Regions from separate parts of the Homo sapiens genome. Here region 1 is linked to region 2. The links come from fine-mapping of genetic effects on gene expression. A gene starts in region 2. The other region holds a variant in brackets. All regions are shown on one strand. Distances are from middle to middle.

Region 1 (5,372 bases), 170 kb after region 2:
ATCCTGTTTTGTTATCTATATTTAATAATGCAATTATATTTATGTTATTAATAGTTTCCCATACTATGTAAAATAGTCTTTGGAAACATGATTTGTAATAACTTTATGTTATTCCATTGGATTATTTCATTGATGATGCTCCATGCTTGGAAAGGTATCCTGAGAAAGACAAGTTCATTCACTGCCTGTAGGAAAACAATTTAGTGCAATTTTTCTGAAGTGCATAATAAGAGATGTCAATTAGCCGGGTGTGGTGGAACACACCTGTAGTCCCAGCTACTCATGAGACTGAAGCAGGAGGATTGCTTGAGCCCAGGAGGCAGAGGTTGCAGTGAATGGAGACAGCACAACTGCACTCCCACCTGAGTGACAGAGTGAGACCCTGTCTGAAAAAGTAAATAAATAAAGAGATGTGAGCAAAAATTTATCAACCAAGATTTTTGTTTTAGCTTAATTTGTAATAACAAAATTGGAAATGACCTAAATGTCCAACAGTAACCAATCTGTTTAATAAATGACAGTGCATCTCCAGGCATTGCCTGTGTGTTGATATGGCTTCTTTAGCATCAAGTGGCTGGAACTTGAGACATAGAACATGGATCTGATCTAACAATTGGCAGCTTGAATGCTCTGTCTTTCACACTGTACCTATTCATTTCCTGCCGACTGCCTTGGATTATAGATAGGGCTGGCTGAGGTTTTTCTCTTAATTTTCTTGGCAACTCATGACTTCTGGCTGCAAAGACTTTTCAGATGGTCTCTTGGACATCAAACAGCTACAGACCAACATTTGGTTACATAAAGTGCAAATGAATCATGAACATGTGGATTATATTTCTATTCAAATACACAGCGATTTCAAATTATGGGAAATGGACTATGGGCTGTACAAATTAGCACGAGGTTTGGGAAGTCAATGGAAATGCTGAACAGATTCTCAGTTATGTCCATCTACTCTTCCCCAAAACATTCTTCCTTAGCACCCTAGAAATTACAGCTATTTAATTCAAGGGAACGCTGAACGCTAGTCTTTTCTGCAAGAGAGAGGGAAGGCCAAATGAATTTGCCCAAGGTTCTTAGGGTTTATTTATTTTGTCCCAAAGCCAGCAAAGACTGAACAACATGCAAAATATATCCTCCCTTCCCCTTGGCTTCCGTGTTGGAACTTTCTTAATTTTATCTCTCTTCAGTCTCTTCCCTGTCTTGGTGTTGCATCTCTGTTGGATGTCTTTTCCATTGCTTGTTTCTTCAATGTTGAAATTTTATAAGGCTTCATGCATAGCCCATTTTTTTTGGTATTGTTGTTATTTTTGTTTTCTTCTGTCTCTGCTGCTTGAATCAGAACTTAGTCCATTTTTCTTACTGTGCTTTCTATATTGTTTTAAATCAGAACCTTTGACTTCAACTACTTTCTATACACCAGTGATGTTCATATTTCTATCCCCATCCCAGATCTCTCTCCTGACCTCCAGTTCCTGCATCCATATGCCCATCAGACATCTCTACTCTCTGTAGCCCACAGATGCTCCAAACCATATGTCCAAACTGAGCTCATCATCTTTCTCATCATTCCAGTTTTTTTCCCTGCATTCATTATTTTAGTAACTAGAAGTATCAGTCACCAATGCCATTATTTAATTAGTTTAGGCAATTTTGAGTCTTCACTCAATGCCTGACACTGTATGCCAGACACTGAGTTAGATCAGGGAACACAAAGATGAATAAGAGCTAGTATTTGGCCTCAATGTGTTCACAACCCAGTGGAGAAGATGGACATGTCAACAAATAATTACAGAGAAAGCCCAGCATTAGAAATATGCAGAGAATCTTAGTAGCGTGGGAAAGGGGCATGAATTATATCAGTGGTGGGGAGCATTCAAAGGAGAATTTTAGAAGGGTGATCCCTGAGCTGGCAATCAAAGGGTGAGAAAGGTAAAGGAAGAGAGGGGACAGATGCACAAAAGCATGGAGGTGACAGACAGCAGTGAAAGCAGACAATTAGCACAATTTCGGCTTTGCTGGAGCCTGGCATTTGAAGCAAGTAGACAGGGCTTAGTTATATAAAGGCTTACATGCCTTATTCAGAAGGTTTGGGATTTTTTTCAGATAGTTTATATAGTCTCTCAGTCGAGTGTTCAATGGCAAATATAAAGGTCAGACTTCTTCCCCTCCTCCTCTTCCTCTTCCTTCTTCTTCTTTCTTGAGAGAGGGTCTCCCTATGTTGCCCAGGCTGGTCTTGAATTCCTGGTCTCAAGCAATCTTCCTACCCCAGTCTCCTCTCTTAAAGTGTTGGGATGCAGGTGTGAGCCACTGTGCCTGGCCAAAAGGTCAGATTTCTATGGTTATGAGAGAGGATGAATTTGAGAGAGTAAGAATGGATAAAGGTAGAGAAATTAGGAGACTCTTGGGTTATTCTGGCTGAATAGTATGAAAGCCTAAGCCAGGAAGTGGCAGAGAAGTCAGTGGGTCTGAGAGATGTTTAGAATATATAACTGTGAGGGGCCAGGAACAGTGGCTCACGTCTAATCCCAGCACTTTGGGAAGTTGAGGTGGGCAGATTGCTTGAGGCCAGGAGTTCAAGACCAGCCTGGCCAACATGGCAAAACCACATCTCTACTAAAAATACAAGAAAAATTAACCAATCATGGTGGTGTGCACCTGTAATCCCAGCTACTACTGAGGCTGAGGCACCAGAATCGCTTGAACCCAGGAGGCAAAGGTTGCAGTGAGTCGAGCTCGAGCCCCTGCACTCCAGCCTGAGCAACAGCACAAGACTCTGTCTCAAATAATAATAAAAAAAGAAACAAAGAAAATATAACTGTCAGGAATTGAGCTGAAAGTTGAGATAAGGAAAAAAAAAAGGAGTCAGGGATAGATTGTAGCTATCTGGGTTGGGTAATGTGGAATATAGTAATGGTGCTAGCAGAGAAAACACAAGG[C/G]GCTCAGAAATATTCTTGATATATTAGACTGTGGTTCCTTGAACTCATCCTCCTATTTCCTGTCCTTGTACCATGGTGCATACTGGTGCCTGTGACTCAAACATGCCCATCACCCTTTTCCAGCTGGCCATCTCACCCGAGGTTCAGAGTCAATTCATTCGTCTATCCAGCATTTATCTGACCTAACTCAGCAGGGTCTGTGCCTTCTTCTGTGCTCCCACATCTCCCAGGGCTAAGCTTTATCCCCCAAATCACCCCACTGTAATGTACTTGCCTCTGTCCCCTCTGTCAGTCTCCAATAGAGAGGTTTTGAGGACAGAAGCCCAGCAGCCATTCAGTTGCTCTTTGCTGACTACTGAATGCATCTTGGGAAGAAATGAAGTTTGTTCTTTTTAGTTACAGAATTGAAATCTAATGCATCAGAGAAATGAGGACAACATAGATGGCATCTGAGCTTTGATTTTTCTTTCTTTCTTCTTATTATTTTTGGAGATGGGGCTCGCTCTGTCACCCAGGCTGGATTGCAGTGGCACAATCACAGCTCACCACAGCCTCGACCTCCTGGGCTCAAGTAATCCTCCCACTTCAGCCTCCAGAGTAGCTGGGATTACTGGTGCATGCCAACATGACCAATTAATTTTTTTTTCAGAGATGGGGGTCTCACTATGTTGCCCAGGCTGGTCTTGAACTCCTGGACTCAAATAATCTGGCCACCTTGGCCTCCTGAGCTTTGATTTTGTGACAGTTGTAACCAGTATGATCTCAGGGAAAGAGGAAAGATACAGGCAACATGTTCTATGACCATCTAACAATGTGATTTGGGGCTATAACAACTTCTCTGGCTATTAGGTGAGTGGGAAGTTTCACTTGTGTGAGTGAATGGCCAATACCCTGGAAGCAAAGCATCTGGGCTCAGGCCTTTCAGGGACCAGGGTGGGAGGAGGATGGCTGATGGAAAGCAGTAGCACTGGTGAAAACAGTAAGGTGACAACAGGAGGCTCCAAGGAGGAGAGCTCAGTCACAGGGCTCTAGGTGGGCCTTTCCATTGATTCCTTAACAGTGCAGGATGGGTGTCAGCTGCAAATGAGATTCTTGTAAAGGGCAAGGACAGGAACAGGCTAAGGTTTCAGGGGCAGAGGAAGAAGGAGCAGCAGAGGGAGGAGGAAAGATGAAAAAATGCCTCTAGAGAAACAGTGGAGCTGTTGGAGCAGAAATGGTGGAGGCACAGAGAGAGCAACCTGAGTAGGAATTCCTAGCCTGCAGTGGGGCTGGGTCCACTGTGTATGGTGCAGACATGGAGACAGCAACCCAAGTGAGCTCCAAGCCTACAGTGGGCCTGTGTCCACTGTGTCCATAGCAGATGGTGCAGGCATGGAGACAGCAACCCAAGTGAGTTCTAAGCCAACAGTGGGGCTGTGTCCACTGCAGATGTTGCAGGCATGGAGCCAGCAGCCCAGATAAGCTCCAAGCCTACAGTGGGGTTGTGTCTACTGCAGATGGGGTAGGCATAGAGTCAGTAACCCAAGTGAGCTCCAAGCTTAGAGTGGGGCTGATCTGGGGGAGCCTCCAGAACTTGACAGCCTCACTACTGATTTATTTTGGCTCTGTGGTCGATGTAAAGGAAGAGAAAAGTGTGAGATGACCTGGAAGGAGTTGAGAAGGCATCCTGGGGGGACTGGAAATACCTTTGAGGCTAAGCCTAATGTCATCCCCTCTGTGAGGTCTTGTCTGTGTTTTCATTGTTGGAGTTCTTCTTTCCCTCGAGCTCACTCCTGGCCTTTAAGTCATCCAGTCTACCCCCACTCTGTGTTCTTAGTTCTGCAGTCACCACTTTTGGACATAGGGCTGAGATCTGATCTTTGCAACTTGACTCTGGGGCCTTCCTTGAGAACAGAGCTCTGGCCTTTTGTGCTAACTCTCTGTACTTTAAACTGCCTCAGTGAGTAGATCTGGCCTTGGGTGGACCATTGGCCTCTTTCTGGTTGACATCCATCCAAACACATTCAGTTTCCCTTGGAGAGGTGGAATTCAGACAACAATCCTTTGTCCCCCCTGGCTTAGCAATCTGTGGCAGCATGAGCTGGAATACTCCGCATTCCAGCCAAGCCTCTGCCCCCTCCAGGTTTTCCTAGCTAGAACAACTCAATAATTTCTGCAAGACAAAACTGACTTAAGGTAGGAAGAGCAGAACTTACTTACCATCTTCCAAATGATGTACTTATTACTTGCTTATCTCCACCTCAAGGGGGAGCAAAGATATGATGCCCCAGGGATTAACCCAGGACTTTCATGTTAGTTCTGGTTCCTAACTCATTCCTGGGTGCCATGTGTTACTCTCTGGGTCCCCTATTGCTTCTTGGGTCCCTGTAATGGGCTGGTATTGGAGTCACTTTACTTTTTCCCTTTACTACAACAGACAATCCAGATGAACCT
Region 2 (5,372 bases):
TTCTCTCACTCAACATCCATTAAAAAAAAAAATACTTAGTCCATTTGAGCTGCTATAACAAAATACCTTAGACTGGGTAATTTATAACTAATAGAAATTTATTGCTCACAGCTCTAGAGCTGGGAAGTAGAAGATCAAGGCCCCAGCAGGGGCCCATTCCTCATAGATGATGCGTCCTCTATGTTGCTGCATCCTCCCATGATGAAAGGGCAAAAGAGGTGAACAACTCTCTCACACCTCTTTTATAAGGCCACTAACCCCATTCAAGAGGGCTCCACCTCATGACTTAACCATCTCCCAAAGGCTCACCTTGTAATACTGTGACACTGGTGATTAAGTTTTAACATATGAATTTGGGGGTCAGATCACAGCAAATACTTTTGATTTATATTTATTTTAATTTTGAGAGGGTTAGAAGGGGTAATAGGTGGAGTTTTCTAAAGAAAAAGCCATTGCTTGAGTGACTCTAAGGGCAGACACCAACAAGCCATCCTCTAATTAGACTAAAAATATGCAACAGCAACAGACAACCCTCAAATCTCTGTGACTTAACACACCAATAATTTACTTTGTGTTCACATTGCATGTCCACTACAGATCAAGAGGGTCTGCTCCACATGGTCACCTAAGCTTACAGAGGCTCCACCAACTAGAATGCAGTCTCCGTGGTAGTTATAGGAGGGCAAGAGAGTGGAGAATTACAGATTGGCTTTTCATTGTCTCAGCCTAGAAGTAACCTGCATAGCTTCCCCTTACATTTCATTGGTCAGACAGAACCACATGGCCCTGCCTACCTACAAATATTGTATCTGTGAAGCCTGATTATCTCTGCTATAGGTTTTTTACTCTGTGCTCTCACTGTGCCAATAGTGAAATTGTGGCTGTTTCTTGTGAATCTACTCCTATCCCTGGACTCTAAAGAGTGGGGGCCTCATATTACAAATTATGTAACTTTGGTGCCTAGCACAAGACTGGTGCCCAGTGATTGTGGAGTGATTGAACAATCGGACAAAGTAAAGGTGAACCTAAAGAAAGGTGGAGGCAGTGCCTGGGAGGATCAGTTTAGGAGCTTCCCTATCTGAAAAATGAAGCAGGGAAGGCCGAGAAAACAATGCTATCAGTTTTAAAAATGAAACCAAACCTCACTGAATAGAGTGGACAGTCTGTGTGTAACACAACTCATTGTCGGGGTGGGTTTCCATCAACAACAAAACAGACTGCATATGTAGAAGAAAGGGAAAATGGGACCCCCAGGGGCACTACGTGGCTTTGGAAAAAAAATCTGATCTTAGAGCAGCCTCAAGAATAAACTAGGCACAGAACAGTCTGACTTCCCTCTCATAAGTTTTATTTATTTATTTATTTATTTTTTTTTGAGACGGAGTCTCCCTCTGTCGCCCAGGCTGCAGTGCAGTGGCGCGATCTCCGCTCACTGCAAGCTCCGCCTCCCGGGTTCATGCCATTCTCCTGCCTCAGCCTCCCGAGTAGCTGGGACTACAGGCGCCCGCCACCATGCCCGGCTAATTTTTTGCATTTTTAGTAGAGACGGGGTTTCACTGTGTTAGCCAGGATGGTCTTGATCTCCTGACCTCGTGATGCGCCTGCCTTGGCCTCCCAAAGTGCTGGGATTACAGGTGTGAGCCATCGCTTTCGGCCCCCTCTCATAAGTTTTTGGAGCTTAAGAAGGACTAAGGTGCAATCCCTGGGTCACCATGGAAAAACCTTGACTTATCCAGCTGTTTTTTTTTTCTCTTGTAGAAGAAAAAAAGGAATTAACCCTACATAATTACTTCCTATTTCAAGTCAGTTTTATTGACCTCGGTTTGCAAACTAAGTGGGCTCATCCGGATTCTAAAGATATTTAAGGATACTTTCAGTTATAAGTAGGATGACTATCCATCCAGGTTTGAACCTGCTGTTCATGGTTAATTTATTAATAGCATGTCTCACAGTTCATTCTCAGAAATGCTTGGATATGGCCGATAAATTGAAACGTCATCCTAGTTAAAAGTAACGTTTTTAACTGGCTGGAGAAAGGTGACTTGGGGTTCTAGGAAGGGACAGAGGAACAAACATTCTGTTGGCTCAGCACGCCCAGCCTGTGTTGGGCTGGGCACCTTAGAGGACCTGTTTCAGGACTGCGTGACTGGCGTTTTGCTGGGAGTAGCCCAGGTGTTTTAACCACTTCCTGAAGAACAAGGTTCGGTAAAAAGAGGCTGGGGCGTAGGCGTGGGTTCCTGTCCCTGCCATATGCTGTCTTCCTGATCTTCGGAAGTCACTTCAAGCACCTGATCATCAGTTTCCTTATCTGTAAAACTGGAGTAGTAATGTTTCCCTCCAAACGCCGTCGTATTTAATTCATTTAACAGCAGCCACTATTATTCCATTATACAGACGAATAAATAGACGTTATGAGAGGGCAAAGTGCGCTGATCAGGGCTCATAATAATTCTAACAGCTACTGTTTAGGAACCAAGTACTCAAGCAGCCTGTGCACAATCTCTAATTTCTAGAAGAGAAGACGGATACTTGGAAAGAGAACTTGAACAATGTCATGGAACTCATAAATGGCTTGAGAAAGGCTGATCCTAGGAAATCTGCTTCAGAACCCGCGCTCTCACTGCATAAGGCGTATTTCAAGGGAGGAACGGGCAGGCATCTAGCACCACTCTTCGGACTCCCCATCCAGTGCTCTTTTCCTCTTTTCGTTACACTGCACTGCTGGTCGGAAACCCATCGTGGAAGTGGATCAAACACAACAAAGGGCAGGGGGCGTTGGAAAACCGGGCGAAGTCGCGCAGACCGAGACGACCCACCGGCCCCAGCAAATCACCAGGGGCCGAAATCCAGTGTCCTCCTCCCTTCAGCCCAGAAGCCAGGTCACCTTTTAGACTTGCTCTCTTGGCGGGGAGGAAGCGTGGAGCCCCCTGGTCCGGCTAAGAGCTTACGTAAGGCCCGCGGGCGGCTGCGCCCCGGTCTCCCATGGGTGTGCGCAGAGCCCCCGGGCCGGAGCAGGCCTTCCCCTGTCCGCTCCCCCAGTCTCTCGGCCCAGGACCACGGGGGAGTTCAGGACCACCGGCCCCACGCCGGCAGCGTCCGCGTTGGGCGGCGGCGTCCCCCGCAGCCACCCAGCTTCCCGGGGGAGGAGCAGCGCATCGCGCAAGCATCCGGGAGCGGCGGAGGGGGCGGGAGGAAGGGCGAGAGGAGGAAGCGGGATTTAAACGAAAGGCGGTGACGCCACACAAAAGATTTCTATAGGCTCCAGGGAGGTTACGGCCGAGGCGGCGGCGGCGGCGAGCCCGGGGGCGAGGCGCGGACGGGAACAGGAAAAGCCTCCGGCAGCCCCTGCGGGCGGCGGCGCAGCCACGGCCGCGCTCCGAGGTGAAGCCGCGCGCGGAGAGGAAGCGGGTGTTTTCCCCTCTGCCTTTCGGCCCCCGCCCTTCCTTTCAGTTTCTGCCCGCTCGCTCGGAAGTTGGCGGTTGACAAAAATGGCAGGAGCCGGGGCCCGGGCCGGTTGCCGCAGCGCCGCGGGGACCTTCTGAGTTGGCCCGGTGGCAGGGAGACTCGTGCAGGGGCGTCCGATGCGCGGGGCCCGGGGCCTCGGGAGAGCTCAGCTGCTGCGGGCCCCAGACGAGGCGACAGGGATGGACTTGCGTAGACAGCCAGCGCCGGGCCGCCGGGCGCGCGGTCTGGGAGGGCGTGCCGCCGCGGCGCCGGGCCGCGCTCTGTGAACCGGCGAGGCGGGAAGGGGCCGCCGTGGTGCTCGGCACGCCCGGGCGTGTGGCGGGCGGGCGAGAGCTTGAGCGCGATCCGGGCGGCCGCTGTGCGCAATCAGTGCAGGCTCCCGCCCGACTCTGACTCGGCGCGGCCGCGACAGTGCCGGCCACACCCTCTGCCCCGCTGCCGCCGGCGCCGCTTCCCAAGAGCTGGAGGCAGGAGATGCGCCCGGGGCGGCCGCGCGTCCCAGAGAGCCAGCCCCGGCCGCCGTCGCGGGGAAGTGCCGCCTGGTGGGGTCACGGCGCCTGAAGCCCACGTGCGCCGCCGAGCCCGAGGTGGCCTCGAGCGCGGCGGCTGACAGCACAGCCCGCCTGAGCTGCCTCCCGCGCTCCTCCCCGAGGAAAGGATTTTGATTTCAAAGAAAGGAAGGAAGGAAGGACAACTCCCAGCTTCCCCGTCCCGCCCTCCCCGCTCCGAGGGCCGCGCCAGGCCATGCCCAAGAAGGCGGCGGCGGCGGCGAACCAGCAGAAGGGACTTTCCTGGCAGCCCGGCGACGAGGAGCGCGGACAGTGAGTTTGCTCTGCCCCGGTTCATGGTTCCTGCAAGCCCTCTAGGAGGCCGAAAGCTGCAGCCCCTCCCCTTGCCCCGAAGAGCCTTCCGCGTTCTCTCGCCCTCGGGCCCACCCCGCGCCGCCCGGGCTCCCGCCGCCGCAGCCCAGTGCCCTCTGCCCGCGGCGGTGGATGGCATGATGGTGCGGGGAAGGCACCGCGGCCTTGGCCAGCTGAGTCGCGACGGCCGCCGGGGCGGCGGCAGTGGCCGCGGCAGCGGCGGTGGTAGCGGGCTCCCCAGCGGCATGCCAGTGCCCCCCGGGCGCGATGGCTAGCGGCAGCGCCGGGAAGCCCACTGGCGAGGCGGCTTCTCCGGCTCCTGCGAGCGCCATCGGCGGGGCCAGCTCGCAGCCGCGGAAGAGGCTGGTATCCGTCTGCGACCACTGCAAGGGCAAGATGCAGCTGGTGGCTGACCTGCTGCTGCTGTCGAGCGAGGCGCGGCCCGTGCTCTTCGAGGGCCCCGCCTCCTCTGGTGCCGGCGCCGAGTCCTTCGAGCAGTGCCGGGACACCATCATCGCGCGCACCAAGGGGCTCTCCATCCTCACCCACGACGTGCAGAGCCAGCTCAACATGGGCCGCTTCGGGGAGGCGGGGGACAGCCTGGTGGAGCTGGGCGACCTGGTGGTGTCGCTGACCGAGTGCTCGGCCCACGCGGCCTATCTGGCCGCTGTGGCCACGCCGGGCGCCCAGCCCGCGCAGCCGGGCCTGGTGGACCGCTACCGCGTGACGCGATGCCGCCACGAGGTGGAGCAGGGTTGCGCCGTGCTGCGCGCCACGCCGCTGGCCGACATGACGCCGCAGCTGCTGCTGGAGGTGTCGCAGGGCCTGTCGCGCAACCTCAAGTTCCTGACGGACGCGTGCGCCCTGGCCAGTGACAAGTCACGGGACCGCTTTTCGCGGGAGCAGTTCAAGCTGGGCGTCAAGTGCATGAGCACCAGCGCGTCGGCGCTGCTGGCCTGCGTGCGCGAGGTGAAGGTGGCGCCCAGTGAGCTGGCGCGCAGCCGCTGTGCGCTCTTCAGCGGGCCCCTGGTGCAGGCAGTGAGCGCC

Alleles and levels. Alleles are on the strand shown, and positions count from the first base shown. SD is a standard deviation of normalised expression in the study named.
As copies of G replace C in region 1, the expression in cerebellar hemisphere of the gene that starts at base 3,244 in region 2 goes up (moderate effect, 0.45 SD a copy in GTEx).

Evidence for each region. PIP is the estimated chance that this variant, and not a neighbour inherited with it, causes the effect.
Region 1: its variant is fine-mapped to the expression of TLNRD1 in cerebellar hemisphere (GTEx, PIP above 0.99).

Annotation. Positions count from the first base shown.
Region 1 is chr15:81,169,950-81,175,321 of GRCh38, forward strand. No RefSeq gene overlaps it. Among named protein-coding and RNA genes, the nearest start is that of IL16, 24 kb to the right of the region's middle. The variant C/G (reference allele first, on the strand shown) is at 2,940.
Region 2 is chr15:80,997,680-81,003,051 of GRCh38, forward strand. TLNRD1 (talin rod domain containing 1) reads left to right here and starts at 3,244. Exons shown (of 1, transcript NM_022566.3): 1 at 3,244-5,372. The coding sequence starts at 4,593. It overlaps LOC128071545, which reads left to right and starts at 4,463. Exons shown (of 1, transcript NM_001414893.1): 1 at 4,463-4,600. The coding sequence starts at 4,463. The coding sequence ends at 4,600. RefSeq lists enhancers at 1-378, 5,035-5,372 and silencers at 2,872-3,561, 3,602-4,061, 4,412-4,541.